2 linked regions of the Homo sapiens genome follow. The protein of the gene in region 1 purifies or fractionates together with the protein of each later gene. This does not show direct contact. Each region holds a gene or a part of one and is shown in the gene's direction. Other genes may lie near its edges.

What was found.
Region 2: the proteins of RHEX (region 1) and PLD1 purify together in Homo sapiens (affinity purification with mass spectrometry; 3 studies listed by BioGRID and IntAct, with this or other methods). This does not show direct contact.

Annotation. Positions count from the first base shown.
Region 1 is NC_000001.11:206,098,040-206,101,789, forward strand, and holds part of RHEX (regulator of hemoglobinization and erythroid cell expansion protein), read left to right. Parts: intron 1-41; coding exon 42-142; intron 143-1,615; coding exon 1,616-1,759; intron 1,760-3,096; coding exon 3,097-3,158; intron 3,159-3,712; coding exon 3,713-3,750. UniProt on the Homo sapiens protein: Acts as a signaling transduction factor of the EPO-EPOR signaling pathway promoting erythroid cell differentiation.
Region 2 is NC_000003.12:171,600,753-171,604,502, reverse strand, and holds part of PLD1 (phospholipase D1), read left to right. Parts: intron 1-1,200; coding exon 1,201-1,425; 3' UTR 1,426-3,750. UniProt on the Homo sapiens protein: Function as phospholipase selective for phosphatidylcholine. Implicated as a critical step in numerous cellular pathways, including signal transduction, membrane trafficking, and the regulation of mitosis.

The DNA of each region.
Region 1 (3,750 bases):
CCTTGCAATCTCTGACTTTGCCCCTTTTTCTTTCCCAACAGAGTCATGGAGGTCTGGCATGGCTTAGTGATCGCGGTGGTGTCCCTCTTCCTGCAGGCCTGCTTCCTCACCGCCATCAACTACCTGCTCAGCAGGCACATGGGTAACTGGCTCAGCATCCTCTTCCCTCCTAGTCACTCTCAGAGACCATTCTCGAGCCTCCAGCAGGACAAGACCCCTTTGGAGTTCCCAAACGTCACTCAAAAACCTACCAGAGGACCCACCGGCCAAATTCCTTCCCACCGCTCCCCCTCCCCCCAATAACTGTATCTGGGTAATCCCCACTCTGACCTCACCTTTTAACCAACTATTTCTGGCTGGAAGTGGCCATCCACATCCGTCTACTACCCAGACCTTCTGCCTAGACACAGCTTTTGCAATGCCTACGAGGAAGTGCTCGTGTAACCTGGTCTAATTAATTTTCTTCATCCCTGTTAAAGGACTGAATATGAAGAAATGTCCTTGAATTACAACAGAAGGAAATATGGTTGGACTTAGAGATTAGTTTAAATTCTTGAACTGATAAACAATAGAAGGTAGTGAAGCTCGGTCCTGGAAAGGCATTTCAATTAGGGAAAATAAAACAATGCTGCTTTGGTTGTGCTAAGAGAAAGGACGGGGCAAGATGATGTTTTGAGGGTCTTTCTAGTTAAGTCTACCTTCATTCATTCATTTGTTCATTCATTCATTCAGCAGATATTTCTTGAGCATCTAAGACACTCTCTGGGCCTAGGCTACACAACAGGGAACAAAACAAAAATTCCTACCCCCGGAATCTTTCATTCCATGTGACAACAAACAAGATAAACAAGTAAAACATGTATATGCTAGATTATGGTAAGTGCTAGGGAGGAAAAATGGAACAAGGGAGTTGATACAGCTTGGTGGATGGCTGGCATCCCCAAAAGGCTAACCTTTGAGTATAAACTTGCAGGGAGTGAGGCGTGAACTCTACCTGCAAAGGCCTGAAGGAGGAACGTGTTAGGCACATGCTAGCAAGAGCAAAGAGGCTGGGCAGCTGGAGCAGGCAGAGAGAAGCAGGAGAAAGCCAGAGAGGAAGGAGGAGTGAGGCCTCGGAGGCTGGGACTTGGCTTTTTCCAAGTGAGGCGTGGAACCATGGCAGGGTTTTGAGCACAGCAGTGCTGAGGTTTGAAGGGATCTTTCTGAAAGGTTTGCTTTACTGAGGGCAGTGTTCAACAGGCGCTGATTCAAGAGCCGATGTGCCTAACCCAGGCAGCTTCCACTTTTTTTTTTTTTTGAGATGGAGTCTCACTCTGTCCCCCAGGCTTGAGTGCAGTGGCACAGTCTCGGCTCGCTGCAACCTCTGCCTCCCAGGTTCAAGCAGTTCTCTTGCCTCAGCCTCCCTAGTATCTGACATTACCGGCACGCATCATCATGCCCAACTAATTTTTGTATTTTTAGTAGAGATGGGGTTTCACCATGTTGACCAGGCTGGTCTCGAACTTGTGACCTCAAGTGATCCATTTACCTCAGCCTCCCAAATTGCTGGGATTACAGGCATGAGCTACTGCGCCTGGCCAGTTTCCACTTTTGATCCCTGCCCTCTCCCTTCCAGCCCACAAGAGTGAACAGATACTGAAAGCGGCCAGTCTCCAGGTTCCCAGGCCCAGCCCTGGCCACCATCATCCACCTGCTGTCAAAGAGATGAAGGAGACTCAGACAGAGAGAGACATCCCAATGTCTGATTCCCTTTACAGGCGTGAGTAAGGGGTTGGAGGGAGAACTTGTCTAGGGACTAACTTTGCTCTCTCTGGACACCCAGGACCTCCCTGCAGCAACCCCATGGGCCCAAACCTCTAGCCTGAGGATTCCTCACAGCCACATCAGGACAGCCTTGCCAGCCTACTTTTTTTCAGAAAGGTGTTTTATTCTATTTCGTGGGGAAGATCATTCTGAGTTTGTGTGGGTCTAAGTTCTTTCCCGGGTTTAGTCGTGTGCAAATGATTGCAGGCGGCTTGGGAAATGTCCCTGCTCTTCTCTTTGTAAAGCCATGGCATCTTTTCTTCGGATTGATCAGCTAATGGTGGAGTTAAAATTTCACCTGCCTCTGCCTGCCTCCACCGTGGCTGCTGCTATGTCAGTGTTATTGGCTGGCTCTGTAGCTGGCTCCTCCATAGTCCCTAGAGGGACCCTTTTTCATGGTCTTAGATCTGCATGGGTATCTGAGTGTATAAATGTGAATCTTGCTGCTGGTTCAAATCTATATCACCCTCCTGCAAGTGAGCCAATAGGTCACTATTCACAGTGGAAGTGGCTGCTTTGGCAACAAGGCAACTCCCTGATAGGGGCTCACTCACCAGAGATTGCACTTCTTCCACTGGTTTGTCTCTTGATTGGTTTGAATTTGCTCTGTCCTGATTTTATCTTTTCAGTTGAGACATGGCCTCAGTGCCTGCCTGTGGGGACCTGAGGGTGCTGCTCATATGCATGTTTCAACAGAACTGGAGAGGCACTGGCCTTACCCTAACCCCTGGCCCCAAAGCTTCACCAGAGCCTGGCTAGAATCAGAGATTGTTTAGCTGTCAGGGACCTCAGAGACTCTTGTTCAACCCTCTTGTCTTGGGGGTGACGAAAACCAGGGCACAAAAAGAGATGTGATCTGCCTAGATTTAGTGACAGCTTTGGACTAGAAGGTGTAACTTCTGAGGCCAGAGCTGTTTGCATTGGGTCACATTGTCCCAGCATGTTCCTCCTGACTTTTCTTTCTGGAAGACAGCCCTTTCCAAGCACAGTCAACCTAGTGTATTTTTTAACATTAGTTTTAGATGGAGTTGAATGAAGCAGCAGTGCTTGGCCTCTTGGACATGTCCCTGCCTATTTTTGGAGACTTTCTCTCCCCCTACTCTTCCCCTATTCTGTTTCTCCTTCTTCCTCTTTTGGGGTCTCTGTATCTCTCTTCCCTACCCCCCCTTTTTGTTGCTGGCTCTGCCTCTGTCTTTATCTGATAATAAGACAATTCTCCCTTCCATTGTCTCTATCCTCTCTTAACACCCTCTGGCTTGCTTTGGAAGAGGAACCGTTTCTATTTCTCCCCAGATGACAGCGACACACCCTCAGATAGCTTGGATAGCTCCTGCAGTTCGCCTCCTGCCTGCCAGGTAATGGATGTGCCTAGTGATCTCAGACGAACATATGCAGTCTGGGGATCCCTGCTGTAAAACGCTGAAAACTCAAGTTACCCCAGCTATGTAGTGGGAGCAAGAAAAGAGGGTTTCTTGAGTCATCACAGCATCCTCAGGTGAGGGGGGGTCAGGCTTCCACCCATAACCCATATCTGCATGGATCACCCAAACAAAGTGGGTCTGAACAGACTGTAAAAATGAAAGTGCTAATGGGAAACCCTCTTCTCCCCACACCCCAGTTGTTGGGCTCAAGTCTGCTCTGAGTCCTGATCTCCCTTGAATTGAGTCTCAGCATCTTCCTGTTGCCTCCACCTGCTCGTCTGTAATCCCATTCCCTGCAGACAGGTGGAACAAAGTCACTGGTAATCTTCCTCATTGCCCTGGACTGCTCCCAGACACAGCTATTTGGACCCAGATCTTCCCCACCAAGCCATGGGCGAATCTTGTTGAGTAAGAGTTCAGTCCTGGGGTCTTATTTCCCCCAAACGTGGTAGGGATCTTGACCCACATGTCTCTGCTTTTCTCCTAAGGCCACAGAGGATGTGGATTACACACAAGTCGTCTTTTC
Region 2 (3,750 bases), on another chromosome or scaffold:
GTCTGTGTTCTTCTTCATGACTTCCAGGGACAGACGTGAACCTCTTTAAAAAAAAAAATTAGGGAAAATACGCAATTTTTCTCTTAGAGCCCCTTCCAGCAGAGAAACTTATTATTCTTAATGAAACATGTCTACTGTCTGTATAACCTTGTTTCTTTTCTTTCTTTCCTTTTTTTTTTTTTTTTAATTGACATGGAGTCTCACCCTGTTGCCCAGGCTGGAGTGCAGTGGCATGATCTCGGCTCACTGCAATTTCTACCTCCTGGGTTCAAGTGATTCCCCTGCCTCAGCCTCCCGAGTAGCTGGGCCTACAGGTGCCCACCAGCACACCCAGCTAATTTTTGTATTATGATACAGGCTGGTCTTGAACTCCTGACCTCAAGTGATCCGCCTGCCTTGGCCTCTCAAAGTGCTAGGATTACAGGCATGACCCAATGCGCCTGACCCCTGTATAACCTTATTTCATCCTTATTTCATGGACCGAAGGCCATGATCAAATAGGTCATGTGCATAGAGTCATTAAAATGTAATTTTACAAATGCAGTGCACAGCCTTATTTGGGTCCTGGATTTGGGGGAAAACATCTATAAAAGACATTTTGGGGATAACAGGATAAATCTGAATATGAAGCATAACTTAAATGACATTATATAATTAATTTTCTTAGGTGTGAGAATAGTGCTGTGATTATATAGGCACATGTCCTTATTCTTAAGACATACCTGCAGAGAAGTATTCAGGGGTGAAGTGTTATGATATCCAAAACTCATTTTCAACCAGCAAAGTAAGTGTTACATATTAACAATTGATAATGCTATGTAAAGGTACAGATATGAGCCTCTTTCAAGAAAAGTTAGGGAAAATATAATATGCAATATTCCTCTTAGACCAGAAGCTCCAGTGAAATTCAGGGATGATTATTATCCAAAAAAAATTAACCTTAATGTGGGGTAACATTAGTGTAATTTCTTGCCACTAACCATGATTTTTTAAATGGAAGCAGATCTATCTGTTTGTAGCAGATCTATCTATTGTTGGTTATAAGATAACCAACTCTTAAATCAGGTCTGTGCTGTAACATAAGACTAATAATATGTTTCATACAACAGAGGTCTTGTCTGTTGGAATAATTATTTTCCATAAAGGCCATGTGCTCGCTTTTAAACTTTTCACTCATTTTTCTATTTATGCTCTAATCAGGTTTTCCGGTGCCTTCCCAATGATGAAGTACACAATTTAATTCAGCTGAGAGACTTTATAAACAAGCCCGTATTAGCTAAGGAAGATCCCATTCGAGCTGAGGAGGAACTGAAGAAGATCCGTGGATTTTTGGTGCAATTCCCCTTTTATTTCTTGTCTGAAGAAAGCCTACTGCCTTCTGTTGGGACCAAAGAGGCCATAGTGCCCATGGAGGTTTGGACTTAAGAGATATTCATTGGCAGCTCAAAGACTTCCACCCTGGAGACCACACTGCACACAGTGACTTCCTGGGGATGTCATAGCCAAAGCCAGGCCTGACGCATTCTCGTATCCAACCCAAGGACCTTTTGGAATGACTGGGGAGGGCTGCAGTCACATTGATGTAAGGACTGTAAACATCAGCAAGACTTTATAATTCCTTCTGCCTAACTTGTAAAAAGGGGGCTGCATTCTTGTTGGTAGCATGTACTCTGTTGAGTAAAACACATATTCAAATTCCGTATACCAAAATCCATTTCCTTTGTAACAAGAATTTACCAGTAACTGTGATCTAGGTTGCCAAAAGTTGTCTGAATCTCCTTATTCTTCTCTGATCTTCATTTATGCAGCCAATGTCTAGCTGGACCTGCCCTCATCTTGCAGTTCATACAGGCACTGTTTGAGAGATTGTTTATTATTAGATGTTGTAATGCTGCTTCAAGATTCTTCATGGTTACATGGGATGCCCCTGCTCATCTGGTCCTGAAGTAGTAACATTCACCCAAATGAGGATATAGTCATTATTCCTTTTCAGTCACTGTACGAACACGGCAGACTTTAGCCTACACAGTAGACTGTGTTAGGCACTTCTGGTAACATTGACACTGTATCTTGACACCACTAAGCAACAGGAAGGAATAAATTCCAATATTGAGACAGAGATTTATTTCATTTTGCTCCCAAAGGCACTGACAACATGAGTCCTTGTGATTAGGCCCACCTGATCAAATGTAAAAACATGCATGGGATATTTGATTACGTAACAACCAGCTAAAACTGAGAGCACACAGCCTTCGGAAACCCCCAAGGTGTCGAGGAGGATCAGATCCAGATAAGAGAAGATGATTCCTTCTAGTCCTGTAAAATTTCCTGTCATCCTTAGCTGCTGGGTTGATTGAAATTTGATCTCTACATTTCAAAATCAAACTAGTGAATACAGTTTGTCTTTCAAGAGAATCAGAGGCATCGTAACTCCTACCAAGTTAGTAAGTATGAGTCTAACCTTGTTTGACATTCAGGTCTTCTGCTACATTATCTTCTTTGAGAAAAATTAATTGATTATAAAATATGTGCTACTTCACTTACATTATTAAATATGTATTAACGCCTCTCACCAGGGCTTCCAGTGAAGTTACAATGCCCTAGTCTGTGAATTAGTCTGGAAACGTGTTTTTCCTTTTCGGATGTTAGAGTACCCTTTGATAAACTAAATTTTACTAAGCTGAACAACTCTGACAGTCTAAAGAGCTAATGTGGGTTACCAAAAGGCCTGTACCTGTAAAACAAAATGCAGGTGTAATGATTATACATGTCTATGGATTACCTGGACATACTCTCATTTGGGTTGTTCTTCAAAGAAGCAAGCAGCCGATCCCTGTTTTCATAAAGCTAATACTTCAGTTGGAAAAATTAAACAGGAGCACAAAGTCAGGGATAGGGGTTAGCAGAAGAGAGAAATAGTGTCACATCAAGGGCAGGATCTCATAGCTAGGGAACATTTCACAAATAAGGTGAGATTTTGTAACCAATAATAAAAATGAATGTTTTTATAAGTAAATAACTTATTTTTCATATGGCTAAAGATGGTAAAATGACTTCATTCTATAGCCATTGTAAATAAGAATTTGCTATTGATGAAAGAAGTTCAGATTGGCATTTGAAGTATTGAGTGTATGGGATCTCTAAGGATTTCTTAGATTTTATATTTAAATATTTTTTAAACCTTAGAGGAGTCAACAAACTGGCTCTTGATTTTCAGCACCCTACTCTCATGAAAAAAGCCTGAAAGGACCCTTTCCCTTATAAGTAATTTAATCCAATTTCTCCCCATTTTATAGATGAGGAAACTGAGGCTCAGATCAGATGAGAACTCACTTAAATCCACTCAATGTGTAGATGGTAGAGCTGGGACTAGCAACATTGCTGCAGCCCATTGTTGGCCTCTCTCTTCACTTTATCATTGCCCAAGAATGAGGATATGCAGTAAACAGAATTCAGGCAAGATACCTCTAAGCTGTTTTGAACCCTCTGATATTTTGTATTTATGTGTTTGTCTGTCTCCCCCTACTAGAATGTAAGCTCCATGGGGCAGGGACTTCACTGTATTTTGTTCATAGTGTATCCCCAGAGCCTGGACCAGTGCTTGGCACATAGGAGATGGCAATAAATGCTTGTAGAATTAATAAACAAGGTGAAGGAGAGAGCTAATGAAATGAAAATCTTAGTCTCATATAAGAAGTCTTACTACTGCTTTCTATGGCAAGTTCCTTTTCTATTGCATCTTCCCAAAGA